Homo sapiens: one gene and its partners. The protein of the gene in region 3 interacts with the protein of the main gene of each other region in a biochemical or structural test. Each region holds a gene or a part of one and is shown on either strand. Other genes may lie near its edges.

Region 1 (3,651 bases), on a different chromosome or scaffold from region 3:
CCTCTGCCTGGCAGCCTTGAGCATGGGTGTCCCTACCGTCCCCACAAGCTGCTTCTGCAGGTGCGTATGGTGACTGTTGTCGATCATCGGGGCCCCACTCCAGGCGGACCCCACAATCCACCAGCGACCCGTCTGCTCCGCACTCAAGACACTGTCCCAGGAGACGCGAAGCTGCGTCTCAGAACCTGAGCCGGCGTTGCGGACCTGATGAAGAGAGAAGAGCTAATGAAATGCTTTTAATTGGTTCATATTCCGTCCTTCCATCACCGGTGGCTTTTTGTTTTTGACCATGACATTTCTGGTGCATGAATACTGGAATGGGTCACTGGCAATTGGGACGGTTAGCCTGTTTGGAAAAATGCCAAAACTAGCGGTAAACTCAGTGTTTTGTGTTTGAGAGTCCATCACCCCAAACACGCTGTGTTTGGAAAGCTGTCCCAACAGGAGAGAGTAACAGAGCTGCCTCAGGCTCAGTGGCAGGTGAGCACATGCCTGGAAGAGCCTGGGTCAGCAATGATTTGGACTTGAGATGACAGGGGCTGAAAGACTCACTCCAACAGGGAGGCTGCCCCAGTCTCCATCCTGGCTGCATGTCAGAGAGAGTCAAAGGACCTACGTCATCCCAATTTCCTTGGTCCGGATGGGGACTTGGCCTTCTCTGAAAGCATCGGATGATCCAATGGTGCAGCCCAAGTTTAGCACCCGGGGTGAGGCAAAGAGGACGCTCGCCCAACATGGGCTTCCCCACACACGGACATTCTGCACGAGCACGCCCAGACCACTGGGACAGCCCCTGAGGAAAACCGAGCCGCGTTCACTCTGCCTCTGAGCACTCTCACTCACCAGACACCACCCTGACGTGCAGGTCTGACTATTTCTTGATTTTCATGACAGGCTCATGCCGACACGGAAGCTCTGAGCAAAACAGAATTGAAAGTTCCTTGACTCACCAAAGCTCTCTGCAGTTTCCTCAGCTTCTCCACGGGCTCGGGGTCATAGCCTGGAATTTTGCGCATGTCATTGTTCTTCAGGGCCAACATCGTCTCTAGCATAAACCGAATCTTCAAGAAAAATGAAAAAATGGAAAGTCCATCATTTCAAACAGTCTAAACGGCCCATTCAAGTTGGCAAGAAATCTACCACACCTGATGCACATGGCCGCCACCGCCACGATACAAAGTCAGGACAGCCTTTAGGTAGAGACAGTCTAAACTAGTCTCAGCCGCTTACTCAGGGCTACATAATACTTCAAAATGGAAATGTGTCCCCCAACGTCAAGTGGGAACCCAAACTCCCCAGAGATCTCTTTTCCCTTCTGCTCGCCACACGCCTCACCCTTCCGCACCGTCCACACCTACTCGGCCACCCCGGCCTCTACTACGCTCCTGCTCCCACCCTGGCCCCCCGCGACCTGCTCTGGACATCCTCTCTCCTACCACTGGCCTTGTAATTTTTTTAACTTTAAAACTGGAAGTAATGTCATACAGAAAAGTTGCAAGAACAGCACAAAGAATTCCCACATACCCTCTGAGATGTCCCCAAATGTCAACTTCTTACTGATACAGAATTCACATAGCATAAAACTCACTCATGTAAGGTATATAATTATGTGGCTTTTAATACATTCAGAGTTGTGCAACTATCACCACAATCAATTTCAGAACTTTCTCATCACCCCAGAAGAGAAACTCCAAGCCCATTAACAACCATTCCCCATTTCCCCAACTCCCCAGCCAGCTCCCCAGCCCACTAATGTACTTTCTGTCTCTTCTCCATTTGAAACCACCATTGAGCCCGCTGCTCCCATTCCCTTCTCCAGCCCCCTCCTCTTCAGACTGGCTTCTCCGGGGACCAGGATAAGCCAGTCAGGACCGCCGTCACAATTCAGCCCAAAATGCAAATCCCTTCCTCCTCTTGCTGGTCCTCAGCATCCCACACGGGCGTGAATTCTTCCTGGGGACACTAGTGTTCCCTGGCTCCTGGGACCATCCTCATTTCCTTCTCACCTGCCAGCTCTCCCTCCTGCCTGCAGCTAGACGTCAGTGCTCCTTAACCTGAAGGTCCTCTTCACAGCCCACCTGCTGCCAGGCAAGTCCACCCATTTCCATGGCTCCCAGGACCCCCTCTACGAGAGCAGCCCCATATCCCTTCAGCCCACTCTGTTCACAGCTAACCCAGTCTTTCAAAAATGGAGGTGCCTGTCCTAAATCCTCATCTCCTCCTGCACGGTCCCCTGTGCCCCTGATGGGTGACCCTGAGCCCTCCTTCCCTTCATCCCAATCCACATGAGGTCTGGTCACTTCTGACGCCCATGTCCACACCCACTGCCACGATCCCAACATTTGCCACCACCTACTCCCCAGCTCCTGCAAAACTCCTCCTGACTTCGACCACCTCATGCCTCTTTCTGCCTTGGAGTCAAAGTGACCATCAGAAGGAAAACTCCAACCTGTCATTCACCTGCTGGAACCCTTCAGATGCCTCTAGGATAAAACCCTCAATTCCCTGCAGTAATTAACAAGGGACCAGAGACCTGAACTCTGCCTTTTTCTCTTGTGATGCCCCCTCCAGGCTCTCAAACTAACCCTTTTCGGGTTCTTCCCCAAACGGCTTCCCAGGAACACGCGGTTCCACACATCTCATCATCTGAACGGCACACAATGTGGGAGCTGTGATCAGTCCCTGTTTTACAGAGGGGGAAACTGAGGCTCAGAAGACCCAGGTTATGCTGCTGTCAAGTGGCAGAGCCCAAAGTCCAACCCAGGCTGACCCTAGAGCCCCATGTCCTGTGGCCTCCTCGGTAAGCATTTTTTAACGGATGAATGTTAAATAAATCAGTTTTTAAATTCACAAAATATTTTTCTGGTAAAGGAATAAGGTCCATTCACATATTAAAGCCAGAAAACAGGATGAGACAGAAAAAACAGAAATCACTAGGAAAGCAAGTGTAATATTTACCCCAGATACTGATTTTTAGGTTCTGGCCAGTTTGTGAGCTTTAGGGACTTAGGAAGCAGATCAAGCGTCGCACGCGTACCCTGGTCTGGTCCTGAAACTCGCTGCCTGCCCCGCTGGCTTTGGTCTGGGCTTCAGTGATCAATTCCTTAAGTGATAAAGCATCATCTTTCCTCAATGAAAAACCCACGTTTTTCAGCATTAACAAGATCAGTTCAATATCTTTTTCGGTGAAAGTTCCAATCAGTTTTTTCAAAATGTCGAAGATGAGGAGAGACTGTACCACGTGGAAGTTGTATAAATGGGCAATGACGGTGAACAGGTTGTCACACTCTTTCCCTTCGCTTCCGTATTTATAGATGGCATCGAACTTCCTCACCACTGCCTCCAGAAAGTGGGCACCGACCTGAAAGAACCACACAGAAAAAAGATTATGTTATTCCTAGAAACCTTCCTTTCTCCTTCAACACACAGAACTGGCACTTTCTAAATTAACAAAGTGCCACAAGGCAGGGCATTCCAACAAGGCATCCCTCGGCAACCCAGAGCAGCCGGCCAGAGTGCCCCAGCCTGGACGCAAGGGCACCTTCCTCTTGTTAAAATCAACAACCAAGGGGCACTGTTTGGCCAGCAGCCATTCTGACTCCTTGGAAAAATAAAACTGTTAAAAATGATGTTAAAAACACACCTATGTCT
Region 2 (4,335 bases), on a different chromosome or scaffold from region 3:
CAGCAGCGGGCAGCTAAAAGATCAGCCCCTTCCTCTCCGCTCCTCAGAGGAGGGCAGTGTGAGTTCAGGTGAGGGCAGACAGCACGGTACAAAGGTCATTTGGAGCAGGAACTGTGCAAGACGGAGTGGCGTCATTACAGTGGCTGGGAAGGTACTGCAGGGACCCTGTATTCCCACACAGCAGCAGACCCAACGTAGGCAAAGAGGAAATAAGCATGGCAAAAGTTGGAAACAGTCAAAGCTAAAACCTCTTGCTTGTTTTGAAACAGACCCCAATTTTAAGTACTTATTTTTGCCAAGTGGTCACGATGGCTGTTCTCTCATATGTCTACCAAGAACTAGGTTAAGGGCATTGAAGCAAAGTTCCTTTTTTAGATAAAGTTTATCCAGCAATTTCAAACACCAGAAATCCAAGACCAGATCAACCAGATAATCAGCGTGATCATTTAGGCTCTTTACAATCTGTACAAAATCCAAATCTAAGAAACCGGCCCTAGCAAGACCCCTTTTATCCCAATCCACGGACAATCCTAAAATTGCCAAGAAAAACTTTACCACAAACAGATTTTGTTTTCAATGAAAAAACTCTTAATTTCATAATTTTCATACCACTTTTTTCTTTTTTATTTAAAATATTATAACCAATTGACATACTAGATAACATTGTTTACATTCCAGTGGTGCATGTTTAATGACTAGGGCATGAATGATGAAAAACCACAATAATGATCTCAGCATTCCCTAAAAAGTGCCCCATTTTGTTTTGTCTAGAGGAAAGGAGAGGGAACGGAACACAGGGAAGGAGAGGAATGGAGGAGGAATGACATCGCAGAGGGAGAAAAGCAAATGTCAGCTATCATACTCAGGTTTCCAGGTGTGACACCCTGCTGACCAGGATAAACTGTAATGAGAAAATAGATGTCACAGTCCAGGGAGACACGTAATTCAGTCTAACTTCATTATTCAGCTAAAAGATTAACAGCTTCTCAAAAATATACCAAATATTGGGCCTACAAAAGTAATTTATTTCTTCGTAAAATTTTTACTAAGATTTACTCCTTTTGTAAAATGTAAATGGACCGATATCACGAGCAGGTTTCTACTTACAAAAACAGTAATAATGTCAACGAGCACAATTTTGCAAGACATACAGTCAAAGATTTTACACGTGTCTCTTACTGATGTAAGGTATATACTTTACATACTTACTGGTATTGTGTCAACATTGGCTAGAAAGTATTTAACACACATTTATAATTCACTCAGTAAAGATCTAACAGGGCAACAGCTTACTTGGGAAAGCATAGAAAATTAGTGTGAGGTAGTTCAATAAAAACCTAGTTTAATTTGTAAGTCATTATGAGAATAGAACATTGTGCAAAATTAATCCACAGGTAATATTTCTCAAAAGTTTCAGTAACGAAGAGAATCTAAACTAGAAATGGCCAGAAAGTGTTACTGTTACTAGACTCTCCTTAAGAGCACTTAACGAAGAGCAGTCAGTTTGAAATTAGGACTTCTGTTTTCCTTACGAGTTTTCTAATCGTACCCCAAACTATACATTTCTGCTTCAATGCCCTTTACCTCTTCATCTTTCTTGCTATTAAGGAAAAATTAGTTTCCTTTGATTCCGTAAAAACCTAAGAGAGATCAGTAGAAACACAATGCACACAAAAATGCAACAGGATACGGAGAGGCAACATTTAAGAGGGCTGCTAATGACAGAATGGTGTTTGGTTTACCTACTGGTAAGAGAAGTTTACTGGTGTCATGGGGCTTCATGCATCCACTCTATAGCTAATGTGTAACTAATGAACAACACTCACAAACTACAACAGTATTTCTGAAAATATTCTATGTTCTAACCTCAAAATGTTGTGCAGGCGAATGCCTAGGCAACACTGAATAGTTAAGTCTTCATATGTTTAGCAGATACTGGCCAATAGTGTAAACCAAGTCTTATCTGTAACCAAGGAAAGAGCTTCACTTTCCTGCTGATGATTTCACTATCAGACACTGATGTCCTCTTCCCTCCATCTTTTAGACAACACAGCAGGATTAGCATAGAACAGAACAATGACAAGGCTGGCAGGATGCTTCTTTGCACACCATCAAGCTTCTTTGGATTGTTAAGGGGGTTGTGTGTAGGCTTCTGATTTAAGAGGCTGGTGTTTCTCTTAGAAGTCTGGCATGAACACACTGTGCCTTTACCAACTCGGAAGAGTGCACGTCAGGAACAATTAGCAGCCAAAGGTGCATGACACTGAAAACTGTTCAGCAAACACTATGACAGAGTTGAGATGCTCTATCTGCGTATAGTATAACTAAGTGATCCCAACAACACAATGGTTTTACAAATGGCCAGTATATATTAGAGGGAAGAGAATAGTAACCAGGAAGACATTGGTACAGAATTAGCATCTCTTTCTGAATCTATGAAGATAATAAAAATCTTGGTCAAAATAACTTTCTGATAGTAAGACAGTGAGTATATTAAGTATATAAAATTGAAAAATCAAAATTATAGAATAAGAAAGGTGGTTTCATACAAGTACTACCTGATAGAAATGTTATTTGTAACTTCTCTTCAAAAAAAAAATGTTTAAGATGCTTAAAGGATTCCAAAATAAAAAGAACCAACATATATTTAGCTTAACAAATTTAAGACGAAAACTGTATTTGGATGTAGTAATTTAAAACCTAGGGCATGCAACATTTAACAAAGAGACCTTGTTTTTAGGATATAATTTGTTAAGTATTTTAGTTTACACTAAGTAATGAGAGTTTGTTTTCTTTGAATTGAACTGAACATGATGGTTGGCAAGTGGCAGCTGGCATTTACAATAAATGATACAGACACACACCTGGTTTTCCTTACTTAACCAAAATCTGTATCAATAGAGATGGCTTATCAGCAATCAAACATAAAATATGAGAACCTTCTGAAAGCATGTCTGCTGTGAAAGTGCAACAGTGACATAATCTATGCTACAGAAAATACAGCTAATTGTGAAATTAATATAAACACACTCATTCTCAAATTTCTGCTGAAATTGTGAATCCAATATTTTCTGTCTACAATTCAAGAAGTGTCTTAGAACTCTAATTTGCCTAATCAAATTAATGCACCTTGTTGTATTAGAAAAGGGACTGATAAAAAGGCTGGGAAGCTGGAAATCATGACTCTAAGCCATCGAAAACAAACTTGCTACTTCAAAGTATATAAAAAAGCTAATGTATTTTAATCTTAAATATTGCACATTAACAGTGATGTAAAATATCTCACTCAAAAATAATTTTGCACTAAATATATGAATAAAATGCCAAGCAAATTTTCAGACATTGCATGTTGAGCCGCACCTGTTCTTGCTCCTGTTGGTCACAAATTCCAAGGGGCTTTCTGCCTAGAACCTTGTTGCTTATGTGAGTATGCATTTCCTAGTTCATTACATGAAATCCCTCTTGTTCCAGAGATAATTTAAAAGGTGCCTGGGTCTATTACAGACAACGTATTTCAGAAATAACGAGACTTCAAAGACATTTTACTTAGGAAAAGTTCAGTAATAGAGAAATAATTCTACAGATAGAAAATGTAAACAGTTAACATACACTTGTCAGGAGCAGCACCATTCTTAACACTACTCGACATCCACATTGCGTGTTATGTTGAAAATCAGGTATAAAAAAATAAAAGACTTAGACTAAATAACCACCATTTATGCCTGCTCTGCTCAATGTGAAGAAACAGTCCTTAGAAAATGATATCCTATATATGGCTGTGTGCTACTATTTTCAGATGAACGGTATATTGCTCATTTGATACATCACCTACACAAATCTAGGTAGGGTTTGGAACCTCCCAATAGCTCGTATAAATGATTATGCTACAAGTAGAATCAAATGAAACACCAGAACAACTGGTGCTCAACTGACAGACACTCCAAGTAATAGGAAACAGGAAAGGTCCAAGGACCCGAAGCTGCAGGAAAGGGAAAGACCAGACTCTAGAACATTGCTGGGACCTACAGCCTGAGTAGATTAACTCAGTGTATACAAAAACAGGCTCATAGCTAGTAGAAGTGAACCATCTGTTTATTTGCATTGAAATGTATTATTCATGAAGTATCCTCTTGCCTTTATGTGATCATAAACTTTGAGCATGCCACAAATTTGTAGAATACACCATATTCTTTTTACTTATTTTTGTTGGGTAGGGTGGGGACATAAGGTGGTGGTAGACGCCCAGCATCTTCAAAGACATGCTCTGAGTTATTCTGCCATTTAGATGACGGGGCTTTTGCCAAAATTAAGTAGGATTGCCTACCAATTCTTGTA
Region 3 (3,651 bases):
CTTACTACTCTGCCAACAAATTACTGCAGGCAAGAGATACCATTAAGCCATTGGAAGCAAAAGAACATTAACAACAACAACAAAATTTAAAATCCCAAAAGGATTAGTAAAAAATATTGTACAGAAGAATGATTTATTCGTTTTACCTTCACCAATTTGCCATTAATTTCTGGAAGTTCTCCAAGTTTCCTATTGTCTAGCATTCGAATTTCATAAGACTGTCCTAGAAGAAAAAGTAATTACATATTATATTCACCACAAATTAACTTTGCTAGATTCGGAAAGAATAAAATTCAGTTGGTTGAATATACAACAGTATAATAATATTATTAGTATTAGTAACAACAATCAGAAGCCTTTACAAGATGCTCAGCACTGTGCTAAGTATTGTCACATTATCTCATTTAACTGATATACTTTTCTAAGGTATTATCAATCCCATTTTACAGACAAAGAAATTGAAACTTAAAAGAGTTTTAGCAACTTGTCCAAGGCCACACAATTGGTAAATAATAGAGCCAGGTAGAGTAATACTTCTCAGACAGTAACCAATGGGAGTGTCTAGGGAATATGATTAGGAAGAGGAAGCTGGACACTAAAAATGGACAGCTAAGCAAAAGAAGCTAGTAATAGATATCAAGTATGACATTAGAACTCAAATCTCTGAAGTAGGACTTCTAGTTTGATAGGCCACACTAGAAAGATCTAAGTTTTTACATATAAGTGTACCTAATAAAACATCATAAATGGCCGGGCACGGTGGCTCACGCCTGTAATCCCAGCACTTTGGGAGGCCAAGGCAGGCGGATCATGAGGTCAGGAGATCGAGACCATCCTGGCTAACACGATGAAACCCTATCTCTACTAAAAATACAAAAAAATTAGCCGGGTGTGGTGGCGGGTGCCTGTGGTCCCAGCTACTCAGGAGGCTGAGGCAGGAGAATGGTGTGAACCCGGGAGGCAGAGCTTGCAGTGAGCCAAGATGGCGCCACTACACTCCAGCCTGGGTGACGCCGTCTCAAAACAAACAAACAAACAAAAAAATCATAAATACAGTAGGTCTGCAATAGTACTAATGAATGAGGAAGCATCTAACCTTGATTGAGATACGTTAGGGTTTCATCATGGAGTTTCACTGCTGGAGAGGTAGCAGCACAAAGCACATATTGAAAAGGCAGGATTTTATTCTCATTATCAGGAGGCAAACTCGACTCTTCTTGCTTAAAAATGGGCAATGCAAGGACATCACTAAAATAAAACAAATGACTCACATTAATACCTGGCAATGGTGCAAACGCAGGTTTATTGCTGAATGATTTAACTGCAATGCTTTGGAAAGCCATAAACATTACTCACCTTGGTGGAGTTTCATCCCAAGAATTCCATTTAGATTACCTGCTGTGATATCCCCCTGACCACAACAGTGTGGGTGATGACAGATATTCACTGCTAAAACCACTAAGTGTTAAAGAGAATGTTTCTAGGAATCATAGACAGGGGTTCCTAAAAGGACTGTGGAAATTATAAACAGAGTTCTAAAATGTATAAATCTAGGACATTCAGTAACGTCTTCATTCTCAGAAAGGCAACAACTATACTATCTATATAACCATATCAGCTGATTTACTATAAGGACTAAAATAACTTCTACAATTCCTTAGAAGCCACGTGAAAAGGACAAATCAATAACGAGTATATATTTCAAGGTCATCTTACATTCTGTGGAATAACAACTAATATTGAGATGTTCCTACAAGCCATTTCCTCTAAGAAAAAGCTTTTTGTATCTATCAGTTTATCTAAACTTGCAAACCAAAGACACATACCCATCCTTTGTCAGTGGGAATGTAAAACCACACTCTCATCCTTTTGTCAGTAGCAATGTACAATGACATAAAACAGTTTAGGAAAAGGTTTGGCAGTTTTTTATAAAATTAAACATGCAGTCAGGCACAGTGGCTCATGCCTGTAATCCCAGCAATTTGGGAGGCCGAGGTGGGCGGATCACCTGAGGTCCGGAGGTGGAAACCCGCCTGACCAACATGGCGAAACCCTGTCTCTACTAAAAATACAAACCTAGCTGGGAGTGGTGGCGCATGCCTGTAATCCCAGCTACTCAAGAGGCTGAGGCAGGAGAACTGCTTGAACCCGGGAGGTGGAGGTTGTAGTGAGCCGAGATGGTGCCACTGCACTCCAGCCTGGGCAACAAAGGCGAAACTCCATCTCAAAAAAAAAAAATTAATTAAAAAAATTAAATTAAATTAACCATGCATCTATTGACCCAGCAATTCCACCCATTGGTACTTATCCAAGAAAAATGAAAATGTAAGTCCACCCAAGACTTGTTATAAATGTTCACAGCATAAAAGCAAAAACTAGGCCAGGTGCTCACGCCTGTAATCCCAGCACTTCGGGAGGCCGAGGCGGGTGGATCACCTGAGGTCAGGAGTTTGAGACCAGCCTGGCCAACATGGTGAAACCCTGTCTCTACCAAAATTACAAAAATTAGCTGGGTGTGGTGGCGCATGCCTGTGGTCCCAGATACTTGGGAGGCTGAGGCAGGAGAATCACTTGACCTCAGGAGGCAGAGGTGCAGTGAGCCGAGATCGTGGCACTGCACTCCAGCCTGGGCAACAAAGCAAGACTCTGTCTCAAAAAAAAAAAAAAAAAAAAAAAAGAACAACAACAACAACAAAAAAATAAAAACTGGAAAGAACCTAAATGTTCATGAGTAAGAGAACGGATGTACAAACCATGGTATATCCATACAATGGACTACTCAGTGAAACAAAGGAATGCAACACGGATGAATCTCACAGATATAATGCTCGACAAAAAAAGCCGGACACAAAGAATGTGTAATGCATGGTTCTGTTTATATGACAGTCTAAAACAGGCAGAGCCAAAGAGAACAATGGTTTCCTGGTGGGGCAGGGGATGACTTGGAAGGTATATAAGGGAACTTTGTAGGGAGATAAAAATGTATTATACTATGATAGGTCTGCTACGTGGTTGTAACTGTAACAGCTTATTTTTGCATCTCATTGTATATGAATTTTACCTAAAAAAAAAATTATTGATTAGAGGATGGGGAATAGGTAGAAGTAAAAATAATAAAAGAGGGCTAGGTGTGGTGGCTCACGGCTGTAATTCCAGCACTTTGGGAGGCCAAGGCAGGCAGATCACTTGAGGCCAGGAGTTCAAGACCAGCTTGGCCAACATGGTGAAACCCCATCTCTACTATTAATAAAAATACAAAAATTAGATGGGTGTGGAGACACACATCTGTAATCCCAGCTATGTCAGAGGCTGAGGCACGAGAATCACTTGAGCCGAGATTGTGCCACTGCACTCCAGCCTGGGCGACATAGCGAGACTGTGTCTCAAAAAAAAAAAAAAAAAAAAGGTAAAAAGAGTAGTAACATGTTAAAGCAAGGTGATGAGTACAAGAGGGTTCATCATATTATTCTGTTTACTTTGTATATGTTTGAAATTTTCCACAGTAAAGTTTTTTTTAAAAAAGAAAAAATATATATAGGCCACAGAGTACTTCTGGGTACAAAAGAAAAGGAACAGGGTACATGAAATAAAAGAAACAATTAAGATTCCCTTGGCTAGGCACGGTATGGCTCATGCCTGTAATCCCAGCAC

The links.
Region 1: the proteins of TFCP2 (region 3) and NOM1 form a complex in vitro, tested with the Homo sapiens proteins (one large-scale study listed by BioGRID).
Region 2: of the proteins of TFCP2 (region 3) and MAPK8, one has a biochemical effect on the other in vitro, tested with the Homo sapiens proteins (one study listed by BioGRID).

What each region holds. Positions count from the first base shown.
Region 1 is NC_000007.14:156,959,561-156,963,211, reverse strand, and holds part of NOM1 (nucleolar MIF4G domain-containing protein 1), read right to left. Parts: intron 3,362-3,651; coding exon 3,038-3,361; intron 1,062-3,037; coding exon 951-1,061; intron 205-950; coding exon 37-204; intron 1-36. UniProt on the Homo sapiens protein: Plays a role in targeting PPP1CA to the nucleolus.
Region 2 is NC_000010.11:48,435,618-48,439,952, reverse strand, and holds the end of MAPK8 (mitogen-activated protein kinase 8), read right to left. Parts: 3' UTR 593-4,335; downstream 1-592. UniProt on the Homo sapiens protein: Serine/threonine-protein kinase involved in various processes such as cell proliferation, differentiation, migration, transformation and programmed cell death.
Region 3 is NC_000012.12:51,117,525-51,121,175, forward strand, and holds part of TFCP2 (alpha-globin transcription factor CP2), read right to left. Parts: intron 1,249-3,651; coding exon 1,097-1,248; intron 224-1,096; coding exon 147-223; intron 1-146.